Homo sapiens: one gene and its partners. The protein of the gene in region 1 purifies or fractionates together with the protein of each later gene. This does not show direct contact. Each region holds a gene or a part of one and is shown in the gene's direction. Other genes may lie near its edges. The genes, in order: TOM1L2, CORO2B, AGL, TMEM171 and LDAF1.

What was found.
Region 2: the proteins of TOM1L2 (region 1) and CORO2B purify together in Homo sapiens (co-immunoprecipitation; one large-scale study listed by IntAct). This does not show direct contact.
Region 3: the proteins of TOM1L2 (region 1) and AGL fractionate together in Homo sapiens (co-fractionation; one large-scale study listed by BioGRID). This does not show direct contact.
Region 4: the proteins of TOM1L2 (region 1) and TMEM171 purify together in Homo sapiens (co-immunoprecipitation; one large-scale study listed by IntAct). This does not show direct contact.
Region 5: the proteins of TOM1L2 (region 1) and LDAF1 purify together in Homo sapiens (co-immunoprecipitation; one large-scale study listed by IntAct). This does not show direct contact.

The regions. Positions count from the first base shown.
Region 1 is NC_000017.11:17,965,798-17,969,609, reverse strand, and holds part of TOM1L2 (TOM1-like protein 2), read left to right. Parts: intron 1-3,812. UniProt on the Homo sapiens protein: Acts as a MYO6/Myosin VI adapter protein that targets myosin VI to endocytic structures. May also play a role in recruiting clathrin to endosomes. May regulate growth factor-induced mitogenic signaling.
Region 2 is NC_000015.10:68,724,838-68,728,306, forward strand, and holds the end of CORO2B (coronin-2B), read left to right. Parts: intron 1-1,005; coding exon 1,006-1,137; 3' UTR 1,138-2,969; downstream 2,970-3,469. UniProt on the Homo sapiens protein: May play a role in the reorganization of neuronal actin structure.
Region 3 is NC_000001.11:99,919,618-99,923,429, forward strand, and holds part of AGL (glycogen debranching enzyme), read left to right. Parts: intron 1-1,916; coding exon 1,917-2,034; 3' UTR 2,035-3,812. UniProt on the Homo sapiens protein: Multifunctional enzyme acting as 1,4-alpha-D-glucan:1,4-alpha-D-glucan 4-alpha-D-glycosyltransferase and amylo-1,6-glucosidase in glycogen degradation.
Region 4 is NC_000005.10:73,123,469-73,127,280, forward strand, and holds part of TMEM171 (transmembrane protein 171), read left to right. Parts: coding exon 1-545; intron 546-3,812.
Region 5 is NC_000016.10:21,178,257-21,181,290, forward strand, and holds the end of LDAF1 (lipid droplet assembly factor 1), read left to right. Parts: exon of another isoform or gene 1-540; coding exon of another isoform or gene 541-556; exon of another isoform or gene 557-676; intron 677-1,218; coding exon 1,219-1,300; 3' UTR 1,301-2,360; downstream 2,361-3,034. UniProt on the Homo sapiens protein: Plays an important role in the formation of lipid droplets (LD) which are storage organelles at the center of lipid and energy homeostasis. In association with BSCL2/seipin, defines the sites of LD formation in the endoplasmic reticulum.

The DNA.
Region 1 (3,812 bases):
TGATGATGGCTCCCCACTGCCAGGTAGCCAATAGGTCATTTCAGTTCAGTTCAGGTAAATGATTAATGGACAGAATTAGGTTCTAATGTATATTCCGTACTGTTGTGACAAAGTGTCAAAGTGACTTTCTTGATATTTAGTGTTGTTAGTATTCTTTTAAAAGAATGTGCGGGGGTGGGGGATTGGTGGGAGGGAGGGGGAATACAGAAATAAAATAACAACTACAAAGCTAATGATTAAAAACAGCAGCTGTAGGCTGGTTGTGGTGGCTCATGCCTGTAATCCCAGCACTTTGGGAGGCCAAGGTGGTGGATCACTTGAGGTCAGGAGTTGGAGGCCAGCCTGACCAATATGGTGAAACCCTGTCTCTACTAGTAATACAAAAATGAGCCGGGTGTGGTGGTGGGCGCCTGTAATCCCAGCTATTCAGGAGGCTGAGACAGGAGAATCGCTTGAACCTGGGAGGCAGAGGTTGCAGTGAGCCAAGATTGTGCCACCGCGCTCCAGCCTGGGCGACAGAGTGAGACTCTGTCTCCAAAAAAAAAAAAAAAAGGAGAGCTGGTCCCTCTCTGATCCCTGTCCTCAATGGATTTACGGTTTCAGGAGAGAAGACAGAGATGCATGAAACAATGAGTGGTGTAGATTGTAAGTGCTGAAGGAGTCAGAAACAATTCAGAAGAGGCTGGGGTGACAGGGACTGGCTTCTTTGAGTCTGAGGGCTGTTCATAAAGGATGGGTAGGAACTCTGCATGCAGAAAACAATATCATTGGGCCTAGGGACAGCTGAATGAGGCAGGGAGTGGGGCACAGGCACATCTGTGAGTACCAGTCTGAATGGAGCAGAGGTGGCTGTGGGGAGTGGTGGCAAGTAGGGTTTGGGCACAGGAGGAAGCCCTGCTCTGGATGGGTGGCATCAAAGACTACATTCTTTTTTTTTTTTTTTTTGAGATGGAGTCTCACTTCATCACCCAGGCTGGAGTGCAGTGGCACGATCTAAGCTCACTGCAACCTCCGCCCCACAAGTTCAAGCGATTCTCCTGTCTCAGCCTCCCAAGTAGCTGGGATTACTGGTGCCTGGCACCGTGCCGGGCTAATTTTTGTATTTTTAGTAGAGACAAGGTTTCACTACCTTGGCCAGGCTGGTCTTGAACTCCTGACCTCGTGATCCACCCTCCTTGGCCTCCCAAAGTGCTAGGATTATAGGAGTGAGCCATTGCGCCCGGCCCAAAGACTACGTTCTTTAACTGACTTCAACTTTTAGTCTCTTTGGACCTAATTTTCCCTGCTTATAAAATAATACTTCTCAACAGCTGCATGGGGCTTACACCTAAATAATTTTGTCTGTTCACTTCAGTAGGCAGTTATGAGTGCCTGTGGGGGGCCAGGCCTGTGCCAGGCTCTGGGGATACAAATATTAACAAGCTGCTCTTAGGGAGCCTTCGGTAGAGGTAACATGCTCACAAAAGGTGTCCTGGGTCTGTCTGAGCGGTTGGTGGAGTAATTCTTACTCTGTCTTATGCGTGGGCCTCATGTGAACATTCTAACCTGGTACGATTTAGTAGAACACTTAGCGTGTTCATCTCAAGTTAGCGGCTAAGACCACAGTCTGACATAGTTAACTGTGCATTTCTTGCATCCATCCCGCCCTTTATTCTGGAGGGCAGTTCCTGAGTAGAAAGCATGGTTTAGGGAGAGAGTAAGCTGGACAGGTGCGGTGGCTCACACCTGTAATCCAGCACTTTGGGAGGCCGTGGCGGGTGGATCACCTGAGGTTAGGAGTTCAAGACCAGCCTGGTTAATGTGGCAAAACCCCATCTCTACTAAAAATACAAAAATTAGCTGGGCATGGTGGCACGCGCGTATAATCCCAGCTACTCGGGAGGCTGAGGCGGAAGAATCCCTTGAACCTGGGAGGTGGAGGTTGCAGTGAGCCGAGATCGTGCCATTTGCACTCCAGCCTGAATGACAGAGCGAGACTGCATCTCCAAAAAAGAAAAAAAAGAGAGAGAAAGCCTAGCCATGGTGTGCGAGGCTAAGAAGTGTGGTGGAAGAAAGAGTACTTACTTGTATTTCTTAATTTTCTGTTCTGCAACAAGCTTCAAAATGTTAACTGTCTTAATCTCAGCCTTCCACAACTGCTTGGAGTTGGATGACATACATGGGGAGTTCCCCAAGTCAGGTCCATTGTGTCTGCAGCAGTTTGCAGTTTTCCTTGTGTTGGCTAGAAAAAGTTTTCAGAAAATCCTTTTCCAAGAGTAAAGTTTAGATTCAAAGATCAGTGAGTAGTTAGTTAATTCTGACCAGAATATTGGGGGTGGTGGGCATGTATTCTCTTCATTGTTCTGCTTTAATAAACAGGCAAGAAGCAGATATTCTGTTGCAGAGTTTGTTTGTAGACTGACTGGTGTTGGACATAAACTACTTCATAATATCCTGTGAATGGTAGACGTTTAACCTGGCTATTTGTACCAAGAATAGTTAGTTGTCCCTCAGATTGCTATGTGTATTAGGGTTCTCTAGAGGGACACAACTAATAGGGTAGATGTTTATATTAAGGGGAGTTTATTAAGGAGTACTGACTCACACAATCACAAGATGAGGTCCCACAGTAGGCCATCTGCAAGCTGAGAAGCAAGGAAGCCAGTCTGAGTCCCAAAGCTGAAGAACTTGGAGTCTGATGTTCAAGGGCAGGAATTTGCAAAGCCCTTTTGCTTCAGTCATTTTATTTAGTGTTCACAACCTTGTGAGATATACAGGAAGATAACTGGAAGGAACTTATAATTATTAAGTACCAACTATATGCAAACTCTGTACATAGAATCTCATTTAACCCTCACAACATTTAACTATTTGGGTGTTATCATCCCTGTATCACATAAGGAAATCGAGGCTCTGAGAAGTTAAGAGACTTGTGCAAGGTCAATGGCAGAGTGAAGCCTAGAATCTACTCCTGATCCAGTGCTCATTCTGTGCTGCCATTTATGTTACTTTTTGCACTCTGAGCTCATGATTCAGCCGCAAGGGAATCACCTGGAGGGCTTGTTAAAAGTGGATCCTACCCTCAGAGTTTCTGTTTCAGTAGGTTTGGGGTGGGAAGTAGCATTCTACATTTCTGTCAAGTTCTCTAGTGATGCTGATGCTACTGGTTCACTTCGAGAACTGTAGTTCTTGCTTTGAAGTTCTGTTTCTTTAATCTTTTCTTTATCTTTCTTCAAACATTAAATGTAGGTTTTCTTGTGGACAGGCTAAAAGAGTGATTATTTAGAATTTGTTCATTTATTTATTCAGTGGCCCTGTACTATCTGTATATAGCAAGCTGAGAATTTCCCAGTGTGTAGGTATCTAAATTAGATCAGATAGAAAGTAGTTGCAAGATTGGATAGATAAATGCAGTAAGGAAATGTAGGAGGGGAGGGGTGACCTCAGGTGGTAATAATAATAGCTAAAGGCTTTTGGGTTTTTTGTTTGTTTTTTTGTTTCTTTGTTTTCCAGATGGAGTCTTGCTCTGTTGCCCAGGGTGGAGTGCAGTGGCGCGATCTCAGCTCACTGCAACCTCCACCTCCTGGGTTTAAGGGATTCTCCTGTCTCAGCCTCCCAAGTAGCTGGGATTACAGGTGCCCACCATCATGCCCGGCTAATTTTTGTATTGTTAGTAGAGACAGGGTTTCACCATGTTGACCACGTTGGTCTCAAACTCCTGACCTCAGATGATCCACCCACCTTGGCCACCCAAAGTGCTGGGATTACAGGTGTGAGCCACCATGCCCGGCCCCGTTTTTGGGGTTTTAAAAAAAGTTTAATGTTGTATTCCT
Region 2 (3,469 bases), on another chromosome or scaffold:
GGGCTCGGCGTTTTGTGGACATCTGTCAATATGCTTTACAGGAGAAATGGAGGCGGGTTAAGCTAGAGAGTCATTGGGGTGAAGATCTGCCAGGATAGCTGTACATGAATCCCTGACCAGTGCAAACTTTGGTATTCTTGTCATAGTTCCTCATCAGTAGGGAAAAAGCTAGATTCCATTCTGTATCCTGAGCCTCCTTAAGAAGAGAAGGATACAAAGCATTTTAGAAAGTTCTAAATTATCAGCACAAGCCGGGCATGGTAGCTTACACCTGTAATCCCAGCACTTTGGGAGGCTGAGGTGGGTGGATCTCTTGAGGTCAGGAGTTCGAGACCAGCCTGGCCAACATGGTGAAACCCAGTCTCTACTAAAAATACAAAAATTATCCAGGCATGGTGGCACATGCCTGTAATCCCAGCTACTCGGGAGGCTGAGGCAGGAGAATTGTTTGAACCCAGGAGACAGAGGTTGCAGTGAGCCGAAATCATGCCACCGCACTACAGCCTGGGCGACAAAGCGAGACTTTGTCTCAAAAATAAATAAATACATAAATTAGCAATAATAATGTAATAATATATGTAATACATGTAATAATACATCTATTATGTATTATTATACATCTATTATTATGTATTATTATAGATGTAATAATACATCTATTAATACAATGGTAAAGAAAAGCATTAAGTTAGGACCCAAAAAGGGACAAGCTTGGGATATTTGGAAAACTGGACTGTTTGGTCACTCCTTTTTCAGTGATCCTGAATCAATTAATGACGCAGGTTTTGTTTCCTACCTCACAAGGGAAAGTAAGAGCCATGGGCTGAGCTAGAGATGGGAGAGGTGCAATAAATGCACCTGGGGAGAATAAATGTATCAAGCAGTGGGAGGCCTGGGGGAATGTGAGGGCACGGGCGGCAGGCAGCTGGAGACTCACCTGGGAAATCCTTGTCTCACCTGCTCTCTCCTGGGCCCTCCTTGGCCCCCTCTCTTCCTCCACCCCAGCTCCTTCGAATGTTCTTCCGGCAGCAGGATGAGATTCGACGGTTGAAAGAGGAGCTGGCCCAGAAGGACATCCGCATTCGGCAGCTCCAGCTGGAACTGAAAAACTTGCGCAACAGCCCCAAGAACTGTTAGCTCCCCAGCTGGGCTGTTTTCTAAGCCGATCTCTCCGTCGTTTCTACTCATCCCTTAACTTCTCCCTTACCAGTGACCCCAGAGACAGAGCCAGGACAGGAGTGGGGGCCAGCCTGAGGACCCCCGCCTACCACCTCGAGAACTGGAAGCCAACCTCTAACCTCCTGACCTCATGCTAATAAAAGTCCCCAGCTTCTGGAGACCCCCTGCCGGCAGCCCCTTTCCCTGCCACCCCAGGAGCCAGGCTTCCCCTCAGCTGGGTGAAGACTACAGACTCCCTGGGGTTGGCAGGGGCTCCATCTCAGTGGACCAGGAAGCAAGAGGGGAAGCGGGATCCCAGCTAGACTTAGAACTTGGACTTTTCCCCTGTGAAGGGGGCTGCCAGGACATCTCAGCACTCCCGCCTGGAGCTCTCAGCATCACTGAAGGTACCACAGTGTAAGTGCTGGACTGCAGGCTGCAGTGATCCCTCTTTCGTCCCACCCCCTCTTCCCTCAGCAGCCCCGGAAGCCTGCCTCACCCGACGAGGACAGCGAGCGGCCCGGCTCCTTTCTGTCTCTTCCCTTCCCACCCTCTTGTCTTCAGGGAATTCAGAGGATTGCTCTCCAAGGCCATAATGACCCCTTGCCTTCCCCATGATTCTCTACAAAGCTCTTGCACACCCTTTTCCCATTCAATTTGTGAGCCAGGCAGGGTAGGGATTAGTGTCCCCCTTTGACAAATGACAGAACTGAGGGTTGCAATGGGGAAATGACTTATAAAGTCACCCAGCAGGTCAACAATGGGCCCACGACCAAGACCCTGGGTGTTCAGACCCCAAGGCCAGGGCCTTTCCCGCTGCATCAAGATGCCAATCCCTTTGTGGGCTTCACCAGTGCCCAAGTCTCTATGGAGAATGAGAACTGGAAGCCACTGCTACCGTCTACCCAGCACCAGTAGTGCCGATGTGCCACACTGCCCAGTTGAGGCCCCTCACGCTCTGTGCCCCTAGATCCTTCAGGTCCCCACCCTCAGCTGTCACCACCACCCTCCCCAGGGGACTCCATCTGAGATGAGGCCTCGTCCTCCTGGAAGCTGAGGCTGAGAAGGGTGGAGCTTGGCCCTGGGGAAGGCAGACCAGGGTCTGATGGCTTCTAGGGATGCTCTGCGTGTGTCTCAGCACCGCTATCTCAGCCACTTTCAGCCTTATGCACGTAGAATGACCACAGCCACTCGCATCCGTATAGCACTTTAAAGTTTCTGCAGTCCTTTGACACATAGGATCTCATGGAGCCTCACGTCTACTCCCTTCTGCAGATGAGGAAACCGAGAGAAGTGGCCCAAGGTCACGCAACTCTGAGATGCCACATTTCATTTGATCTTGTACACATTTTCTTTTATTCCTTCTTTTTTCCTCCTTTCATTTCCCACTACGCACAAAGAGTTTATAAACACTGTTCTCAGAAGAGTCACAGTTTGGGGTGAGATCTGGAAATCAAGAAATGGGTGTCCACTCTTTTCTTTCATTAGCTAGGATCTACTAGATGCATTATACTCCATACCTGCTTTTCCCATGGCCGCCCTACGGAAAATCCCATCCACAGAGGCCAGGGCTACCCAAGCCCCTCCAGGTGAGCTGGGCCTTTCCTTTATGAACCTCCATCCTCCCAGCCAGCTACAGTAGGGCCTCCTCACCCCGTACCCCACAGCTAGACAGTGTCAGCACTCATCTCCTCCTCCCACATTTCTGGAGCTTTTTTTTTTCCTTCCCCATTGACCTTTGTGGTCTTCTGTGATTATTTATGCTGCCTCCCAAGGATAGAATTGAAATAAAATGTTTTCAACTTATCAAACCTGGGCATAGCCATCTCATTTAACCCCAGTGGTTCCTGTTCTTGGTCACCATGGTACCTTGATGGTCAGCTCCCCACCCACAGCTCCTTTGCCTTTCTGGAATGACAACCCACGTCTGTACCTACAGATATAATTTCACACCTTCATTTATCTCAGCACTATTGACATTTGGGGCGAATAATTCTTTGCTGTGGGGGCTGCCCTGTACATTGTAAGATATTTAGCAGTATCCCTGGCTCCACCAATCAGATGCCATAGCAACCCTCATCCAATTGGGACAACCAAAAATGTCCCCAGATATTGCCCAATGTCCCCTGGGGTGTCAGAATCACCTCCCGGTTAAGAACCACTGTTCTACCGCTATTCAATAGATGCTGCCCCGTGTTGGGGTCTGGGTGAGACCAACGCTCTACATTGGAACGGTGCCTTGAAGTTTATCAGGCAGGATTCCACACACTTGACTCATTTGATCTTCATAGCAGCTCTAATTGGTAGGTCC
Region 3 (3,812 bases), on another chromosome or scaffold:
AATGTATCCTGTCTATGTGTGTTGAAAACCTGAGTTTACACCAGTTCCAAGCTATTTCTCAGTGTTTAATTCTATTTTTCTCCCTTTCTATATTTGTAATTCCCTTTTCCAACAATGAATAACCTACTTCCCACATTGGGCCATCACCACCACATAGAGTCTGCTCACCCAGCTTGGGCCTGCTACCCCACAGTAAGCCACCTCTATGTGTGGAGCCCTCCTGGCACCACTTGGATTCTAACTACCCACTCTGGACCACTCTCACCCTTGGTGGACTCCCTCTTCATACCTCTTGGACTCTAACATCCTGCTCCATACTACCTATTACCCTTTCCCCTCCATTTCTGGTCACCTACCTTGCTCTGTCCCACCTAATGACTTCAGGATGAATTTTTCAGGAAAGCAAGGGAAAGGGGACTTCCTTATATTTGTATGGATACATTCCATGTCCTAGTGTCCAAGTGTAATTATGGGCAGCATATTCATGGTTTTGTAACCTCATTTTGTTTTTTAATTTTGGTATCTGTTAGTTTGCTAGAGCTGCAGTAACAGAGCACTACAAACTGAGTGACTTAAATAATAGAAATTGTTAAACAGCAGAATATTGTCTCACAGTTCTGGAGGCCAGAAATCTGAAAAATCAAGGCATGGGCAGAGCCATGCTCCCTCTGAAGGCATTAGGGAAAGGTCTCTTCCAGCCCTGTCTCCTAGCTGCTGATAATCCTGTGGCTTGTGGCAGCAAAACTCCAATCTTCATGTGGCATTATCTTAACTAATTACATCTGCAGTGACCCGATTTCCAAACAGGTTCACATTCTGAGGTACTCGGGGCTAGGACTTCAACATACAAATTCTGTGGAGATGTAATTCAACACATTACAGATGCCCAGGTATCCAACTTCAGTCATTTGGCATTTTACTCTGATGTAGCTTGAATACTTGGAAACATACATTTTCTATATTTTCCATGTTTCTATGACAGTTTTTTAAATATGGTACCTAGCTGATATTAGTTATTATCCAAAATACCCTGTTTTACCTAATGGGATTATTTTTTCCCATTTTTACTATGAAGTATTTGATGCCCACTGAAGCGTGTATGTAATATAGCCCTGAGATACAAACCATAGTAATGAAACAAATATGTTCCCACAACCCAACTTAAAAATGAAACATTACAGATGTCTGTACTTTTTGAATTTGTTTTCATTTTTAAGGGATTACATTGAAATTAACAATAAATTTGATGTGCTAACATCACTGTGTTCTGATAAGGAGGGCTGGAACAAGTTATTTAACCTCTATAAATCTCTCTTACCTCTCTATAGATAGGAATACTTATGGTACCTTCCTTACAGGGTTACTGTGAACATTAAATGAGATAATATACATAAAAGCAGTATTAGAACATAAATGCATAATAAATACCAAGTTTATTATTCAGTAGAAAGAGAAATTAATTGGCATTTTTTTCTTTAAGTAGAAAGTATTCTGGAATGCCATTTTTCCGCCTAATCATAGTTCTTAGTGTTTCTTCATTACTTTTACTTTTACAGTTTTATCAAGATCACACATAACACATCTGCATAATTACAATTTGAGTCTCATAAACAAAATTATGCCTGAGAGAGTATTTATCTCTATGTTTATATGTAGCTTGTAATGGTAGTTTCTTCTATGTTTTTAATACATAAAGGGATTCCTTGTATTTAAAAGTCTCAAATTCCAAAGATGGAATGTCAAAGAATAATTTCAGTCTAAATTCATTTGTATGTCTTTAGGATATTGTTTTATTTTGTAGCAAATGACTACATATGATTATTTTCTACACTAGAAGGCAAAAATCACCAGGTCTTGCCTATTTTGTTAATATGAATTAAATTATGTCTTTGTAAAATGTCTTTTCTTTCATTCAGATCCCCTTGGAAAGGACTTCCAGAACTGACCAATGAGAATGCCCAGTACTGTCCTTTCAGCTGTGAAACACAAGCCTGGTCAATTGCTACTATTCTTGAGACACTTTATGATTTATAGTTTATTACAGATATTAAGTATGCAATTACTTGTATTATAGGATGCAAGGTCATCATATGTAAATGCCTTATATGCACAGGCTCAAGTTGTTTTAAAAATCTCATTTATTATAATATTGATGCTCAATTAGGTAAGATTGTAAAAGCATTGATTTTTTTTAATGTACAGAGGTAGATTTCAATTTGAATCAGAAAGAAATATCATTACCAATGAAATGTGTTTGAGTTCAGTAAGAATTATTCAAATGCCTAGAAATCCATAGTTTGGAAAAGAAAAATCATGTCATCTTCTATTTGTACAGAAATGAAAATAAAATATGAAAATAATGAAAGAAATGAAAAGATAGCTTTTAATTGTGGTATATATAATCTTCAGTAACAATACATACTGAATACGCTGTGGTTCATTAATATTAACACCACGTACTATAGTATTCTTAATACAGTGCTCACTGCATTTAATAAATATTTAATAAATGATGAATGATAGAAGTTTCCATCTACAATATATGTTCCTAAATGGAGCACAGATGTTCAAACTATGCTTTCATTTTTTCACTGATATATTAATTTTTGTGTAATGAATGCCAACAGTATATTTTATATGATTTACTTATGTGAGGAAACATGCAAAGCATTAGGAAATTTATTTCCTAAAAACAGTTTTGTAAAATTAGTATTGAGTTCTATTGAGTATTATAAGATAGCTTACATTTTCAAAATGGAAATTGTCGGTCATATTTCTAGAACTTTAAAGAAAAAAGAATGTTATATTAGTTTTCTAAAACTCAACTATCTTTAGTCATGTTCAAAAATCTATTGCTAGATCATAGTAGATACTGGTTTTCTATTAACTCAAAACCTACATTGACAAGTTTAACATTGAGAAGAATCTTAACAAAAATATGGATATGAATTCAGTAGATATCTTAAATTCAATAAAATCACTGGAAGTTTTTCATGATAACTTATTTTAAGATGCCTTAAAAATCTTAAAGTCACAAAAGGAAAAAGGTTTTTAACATTTACATGAGTTAACATTTTTTCATAGAACTTATTTCCTAGATAGAATTTTTTACTGTTTTTTACTGTTTTCTTAAGAAAACAGTTAAATCATTATGCATTCAGTTGGAAGAAAGTAGTGGCAAGAATTCTTTCATTGCTATATAATATTCAGTGGCTCATTTATACCTAATAAAATAATGGTATTTTAAAATAATGCTACTTTCAAAGTAGCATTTTTTTAGTTAGTTTACAGGTTACATACCCAAAACCTTAACTATGACTAAGAAATTAAAGAAGAAAACCAGCAAACTAAAACTTCTGGGCAGCAAAAATATATAAATGCTTCAGATGTCAAATACCCATGCTTGAAAGCTCGTGTAATTTACTTTAAGATTATCTGCCTGCTCTTCTTCAAAGCTGACCTTGCTTTAGAAATAGTTTTAACTAGCTTAGTTTTCTGGTTTCCAAAACTAAAATAGATTAAATCCTACAAATTTAAGGACAGTTGTGACAGTAATCTGACCACTATCTATAAATACATTGGACATTGGTTTCCAAATCTCCCTTTCTTCTTCAGTTCCTTCCTTGTTCAATATATACCCTTCTCTAAACTGTGCGGGTAAAAGGAATGACTGTCCTTGAGAGAACCATTAGTTTATCAAAGGTTTATGTAGTTTTGTTGCTGTACCCTAACTTTGATATTCAGGGAGGTAGGAAAGGTAACAGAAAACCAGCATATTTAATCAAAGCAAGAAGTAATCGCTGACAGTTAAA
Region 4 (3,812 bases), on another chromosome or scaffold:
GTTGTGTGTGGGAGTCCTGCTCTCCATCTTTGGGTTCCAGGCATGCCAATATAAGCCCCTCCCAGACTGCCCCATGGTGCTCAAGGTGGCGGGGCCTGCATGTGCCGTGGTTGGGCTTGGGGCTGTGATCCTGGCCCGCTCCCGGGCGCAACTTCAGCTCCGTGCAGGGCTGCAGAGAGGTCAGCAGATGGACCCCGACCGAGCCTTCATCTGTGGAGAGAGCCGCCAGTTTGCCCAGTGCCTTATCTTTGGGTTTCTGTTCTTGACAAGCGGCATGCTCATCAGCGTCCTGGGCATTTGGGTCCCTGGATGTGGCTCCAACTGGGCGCAGGAACCGCTAAACGAGACAGACACTGGCGACTCAGAGCCCCGGATGTGTGGGTTCCTTTCTCTGCAGATCATGGGGCCCTTGATTGTGCTTGTGGGATTGTGTTTCTTCGTGGTTGCCCATGTTAAGAAGAGAAACACGCTGAATGCTGGCCAGGATGCCTCTGAGAGAGAAGAGGGACAGATCCAGATTATGGAGCCTGTCCAGGTCACTGTAGGTGGGTTGCTGTTATTTGCGTTCTTGCTTCTATCACAGTGGCTTTGCAGCAGGGTTTCACCAGCTGCTCTTGGTTCTCGTCTGGATTCTCTTTCTCAATTCTTCCATCTCTCACACATGTGTGTGCACACGCACACACCCCCATCATGTGTACATACACAATGGTGCTGCTGTGGGAAGCCCCGTAGGAACCTTGTATACATCTTTTCCCCCCCAGCAACTCTTTCCTACTTTGCAAAGCATTGGGATATTAAGTAGTGACCTTGACTGAGGTCACAGAGCAAATTAAGAGGAAAGTGAGAAGAACCATGAGGACAGCCTTGGAGCCTTCTGCCACCTTAGGGACTCACTAAGTGACCCTGTTACCCCTGTTATTCTCACACCAAAACCACATAGCATTTTAGTTGTGGGACACTTGGTTTCTCCTCCCAGGCTGTCACTAGCTGGCTGTCCTTGTAAGTCCTTAACCTCTCCTGCCTTGGTTTATGTCTCTATAAAATGAGCAGTGCCTCTCTAAGATTCCTGCAGCACTAACATTCTAGGATTCTGGATCTGTCTGAGTCCAGCAGTCTCCAGGTGTTTTGAGGGGCCTCTGCACTGTCTCTGTGTTGTCCTTCTTTTTTTGTGACATCATCCGTGGCTGCAGGGCTGAGGCAAAGCTTGGAAGCAGCGGGATGAACCAAGATGGAATATGACAGCACCTTTCTCCCGTGGAATGCCTACAAGTTCCTTTTGGGTCCCCCGGGTTCTACAGAAGAGATGGAGTGCCATTTCCCAGAGCCTGCCCCCTCAGAACAATAGCAGTAGCGTTGGCCTCAGCTTCACACAACCAAGGAAAAACCCCATCGCTGTTCATTGGCAGATCACTTTTTTTCAGTCTCCTACTTTTGAAAGAGTAAAGTTGTGAAACCACTGACATTTAAAAGGCTAGGAAAAGAGATCTTCAGAACAGAAACCATGGAGAGGACAGAGAGGGAATGTGACAAGTGAGATGCATCTCCTGTTTGGGGCTGTCTACTGGAAGCAGTGGAATTCACTGACTGCAGCCTGGAGGGGAGGAACTGGGTTGCTGGACTTGCATGGCACCAGCCTTGGAGAGGAGGGGCAGATGGATCTGCAGCCATTCCTTGTGTAGAGCCAGGGTAGATGCTCCCAGCTTATTTATTAATATATTTATGCATTAATATATTTATGGTGACAACACAAATATTAGTTATATATTCACAATAGCTAACACTTATATAGGGTCTATTTTTGTGCCAAACACCCATTTAAGTGCTTTATCATGTGCTCTTAAAGGTCCCCTGTGTGAAATTCATTCACACCTACAGCAATCCAAGGGGGCAGATAACGTTAGTACCTCCATGTTACACAGGAAGAAGATGAGGCATGTAGATATCAAGTGACTTGCCTAAGGTCACACCCTAGCAAGTGGTAGAGCAAGGTTCCAACCCAAGTGTCTGGGCACACCCACAGAATAGCCCTTGCATAGCACCCTGCCCAGGGCACGTGGGTGTGATTCCATTTTATCCTTCACCAAGTGTTCCTGGAAGTTATTACATGAAAAAAGGGGCTCCCTTTAATTTGATAGATGTTCTTAGTGTTCTTGAGGAACACCGTGGGGTACAAGTAAATATGTTCATCCAACGCTGCTATGCTTTCATCTAGTTGGGAACGGTTCGAGGGGAGTTTTGGGGCCCAGCCTTCCACCTGGTAGCTGGAATCAGAGTGGACAGAGCTGTGGTGCTGCTCCTGGTGTCCTTGTCCTGAAGTTGGCACTGCATGGTTTAAAATCTTTTCTACTTAACTCTTTAAGTCCCCATCAAACCTATGAAAATCTTGCATCCTAATTCCTCTCCTTTGATATTGTGGAATAGGGTTTACATTTTTAGAATCCAAGAAGCATGCTCTCCTTGTTGTGGGTACACTCAGTGCTATCCTGGATACACAGCAGGTATATGAGACAGCTCTCCTTGGAGGGGTGTATATGTTGTCTGCTCACAGAGGACATCAAGTTCTGAAAGACGCATGAAAGGGAACTCGCAGAGGAGAGGCCTCTTTCCAGGGAGAGCAGGTTGCAGGGTGTGGGCAGGCGGAGCTGCTGGGCCAAAGGGCTGGAGACCCTTGGAGGTAACAGGGTTACTGGAGCATATCCTTGTGTGTTTTTGAGAGGTGATTGGCCTGCCCTCAAGGGTTACTTCACAGGTTCTTTATTCTACAGTGTGTAATGGAAGTGAACACAACCCCAATTCCTCTAACCTACCAAGACCTTCTAAAAAAGTAAATGAGAATCTCAGGACCGCTATTATGCTTTCTCACCTTTAGATTAGCAAAACGTATTTTAAACTCTCATTGCCTTCTCCTTGGAGAAGGAAGGGGAGATGGAATTAATGCATTTTCTGAAGGGCTAAATTCCCTCTGGGAAATGATTGAGGCTGCTGTGGCTCATGAAGGGTAGAGAGTGGAGCCAGTGGCCAATTGCCTCTGTGGTGTTTCTTCATCATGCAAATCAGTGCCCTCGGCTGGTGTTGAGCTGAGAGAGTTGGCTCTGTGCTCCGCACTGTGTTCACTGCCAGATGCAAATCAGTCCATCTAGTCCTTCCTTCTATCTGTCCTGTGATGCAAGAACTGCCTGGCCTGCAGTTTACAGCTGTGGCGGCTGAGGTCAAGGAGGTCGCCTAGCTTGTTCAGGTTGGAACCCCCATCACTTTAAAGAATCCTATGCCACCCTAAGCAAGCATCAGACATGCTAGGAGTGTGAACCACTACAGGGAAGTAAAGCCCCATCTTCTTCATTTTTTCTGAACTGTTATTGCTATTGCCAGCTTCTCAGAGGCTTTCACCAGGCCCCCAGCAGTGGTGCTGCCAGAGCTCTACACTGTTCTGGTCCACTTGTGTGGTGCATTTTATATTGGAATCGGAATACAAATTAGAGTTTGCATCTGGTCCCTAGTTTCTCCTCAAAACATGAGGATGTATTCTGGAGTGAACAGTAGCCACAGAAATGCAAAAACCAAACTTCTTTGGGTTCAACCTTCATCTGTATGGGTGAAATTTTGGTAAATAACAGTTAGGGGCTGTAATATGGCTTACTGTCATTTGCTCAGGGGCTGAAACTACATTTGAGGAACAAGGCACTTTAGCCAACAGCTAACTTGTGAATTAAAGTTGTAGGCTGAAAACGAGAAAAGCTTTTTCAGCAGTAGACACCCCAGAGGAGGGAAAGGAGCTTGTTAGCAAACAATTCACAAAAAGGCTTGGTCTTAGA
Region 5 (3,034 bases), on another chromosome or scaffold:
TAGGGGCCCTGGGCAGCTGTGTTTATTTGCAGAGCCACCAAACTCACTACCCCATATCATAATCTTCCAAACCAGCCTGAGCATAACTAGCTTCCTTACATCTTTACTAAGAAAAGGAAAGGCTTCTTTCTTAGTTTTTTGTTATCAGGGAGGAATGGTTTAGGTGGCAAATAATGAAAAAAACCAAAGTAGATACTAGTTTAAACACACAGGGAACTTTTTTTTATTGCTTAATGAAAAACTGGAGACAGCCCAGGGCTGGTGCAGCCAGTGTGGTATCAACATACCAGGCACCTTTTGCCTTCCTGTGTTGCTATCCTTAGCCCATTGGTTTCCTACCTTATGGCCACAAGATAGCTGCTGCAGCTCCAGATCTACCAGCTACCTTCAAGGCAGCAGAAAAGGAGAAAAAAATGGAGTCTGACCCTTTTAAAAATGTGAATAAAATATTTCCCAGGACCTCTCACCACTATACTTCAAAAGACTTCATTGACTAGAACTTTGTCAGATGGCCGCTGGTTGCTGTTCTCCTGATTGTAGGTCTCACGAGATCTGATGGTTTTATAAAGGGCATTTCCCCTGCACATGCTCTCTTGCCTGCCGCCATGTAAGAAGTGCCTCTGATCTTCCTTTGCCTTCCACCATGATTGTGAGGCCTCCCCAGCCATGTGGAATTGTGAGTCCATGAAACCTCTTTTTCTTTATAAATTACCCAGTCTCAGGTCTTTATTAGCAACATAAGAACGGACTAATACAATCCTCCCCCGAACTCCTTTCCATGGAAGGTGTCAAGAAACTAATTGAAATCAGAAGATATGGTCTGAATCCCCGCCCTGCCATGTTTTCAGCTGTGTGGTCTTGAACGGGCTGCTTGACTTCTCTGATTTCAGTTTTTGTCCATTGGTAAAATAGACAAAATGGCTACTCTTAATCTACCATTCTCACTGGGTTGTTGTGAGGACACAGATAATTAAGAAAAACATAATAAATATCCAAATTAGAAAATGGAAAAGGGGCCGTAACCCTACTCCTAACCTGGTCATTTTAACCTCCTGTGCCCTCAGTTTCTTCATCTGTATAATGGACATAGGCCTGGTGTGGTTGCAAGAAGCAGCTAAAAATCAGGAAAAAGAACATCATGTATTCAGCTATGCACACTTCCAACGTTGCTCTTTACTGAGGCCCTAGAGCTAACGATCTCTTCTTGTTATCCGACAGGCCACTGACACAGCAAAACACCAGTTGTGACTTTCTGCCAGCCATGAAGTCTGCAGAATTCGAGGGGCTTTACCAGGAATGAGTGACTGCTCAGAGGCCGGGCTTCTTTTCAAGTACTGCTGGATCATACTCACCCCTTGGGATTATGGCTTAGAAGAAGGGGGCTGGGTAGGCAAGCACTCCTTGGCTGTGTCCTCTCGCTTTTTCACTTACTTGTAGGATCCCGCAGCAGCCAATTTAGGGATTGTGTTGTTCTTGTGTTGGTTCCCATGTAAAGAAGCAGCAGAGAAATGCGATGGTTCAACAGCTCGCCCTGCCCCAAGTATGCAGACTTGACCTTGGCGGGGTCCTGGGCTTCTAGAGTCTAGCCCGTTGACCCCAAAGCCTCAGGGCTTATGTCCAACGGTCCCATTGGGAGCAACAGTGATTGTTTATAGTTTTTTGTTTTCAGAAATGAGGGCAGCTGTTAATTTTTTCACTCATGTGAAACAAAATGAAAAAAAAAATCCAAAACAGAACAAGCCCTTCTGTGGTATTTGCTTTTTATCAGAAAGAACAGCAACATTTGGCCTCTCCAAGTTGGAAAATAGAGTCCAAATGTAACTTTGTGGCCAAGAGTATTTTCAAAAAAGTCTAAAGGTGTAGTTTCCACTGTAACTGTTGAGTACTGTTAAGTACTGTTAATCTTTTACATATTTGCACTTGGTACTGTTGTATTGTTCTAAAGAGCTTGTCCTTTAAGTAATTTCTTTCTTTTTTTTTTTTTTTTTTTTTTGTGACGGAGTTTCCCTCTTGTTGCCCAGGCTGGAGTGCAATGGTGCAGTCTCGGCTCACTGCAACCTCCAACTCCCAGGTTCAAGTGAGTCTCGTGCCTCAGCCTCCCAAGTAGCTGGGATTACAGGCACCCGCCACCGTGCCCGGCTAGTTTTTTTTTGTATTTTTTTTAGTACAGATGGGGTTTCACCATGTTGGTCAGGCTAGTCTCAAACTCCTGACCTCAGGTGCTCCACCTGCCTTGGCCTCCCAAAGTGCTGGGATTACAGGCGTGAGCCACTGTGCCCAGCCTAAGCCATTTCTTAAAATAAAAATGCTAAAGGACTAGTAAGTAAAAATAAAACTTCCTATGGGATTTCCCAGTGGAATTACTGAGTGGTTTATTTGCGTGGCATTTCATTAAATATTTATTTGGGTGGGCTTTTTTTCTTTACTCTTTTTCCCTTCTGCTCCATACATCAGACCTGCCTATTCCTCTGTCGATTTCATGACTGGTGCTGGGTAATAGGGATTTTTTTAGTTGCTCGCAATAGACACCCAATTCCACATTACTTTAAAAAGAGGGGTGGTAGGGAGAAGGATTAGTTTCACTCAACCAAAAAGCCAAGGGGTAGATCTTGAGGTGCTGCTGATTCCAGGGGCTCAGGTGGTGTCATTAAGCATCTCTCACCCCTCATCTCTCAGTATAGCTTTCCTCAGTGTGAGCTGCTTTTGCAGGCAGGCCCGCCACCCCTTTCGGAGGTCCCAGGAGCTCCATCCTGGGCAAGAAAACTGCTTTTTTCCAACAGTATATACAAATATTCTGGGTTTGGCTCTGATTGGATAGACTTGGGTCATGTGAGCGACCCCAGACCAATCATGGTGGCTAGGAGGATGGGATATGCAGATGGGACAGGGCTGGGATGGTGGCCATTCAAGAAACAGGGGAGGCGATAGATCAGCCCACTATTAATATAACTATTAATATTAACAGTTACTGTTTATTGGATGTTTCCTTCATTCATACAACTGTCTGATATTATCTCTCTATGCTATCTACCCA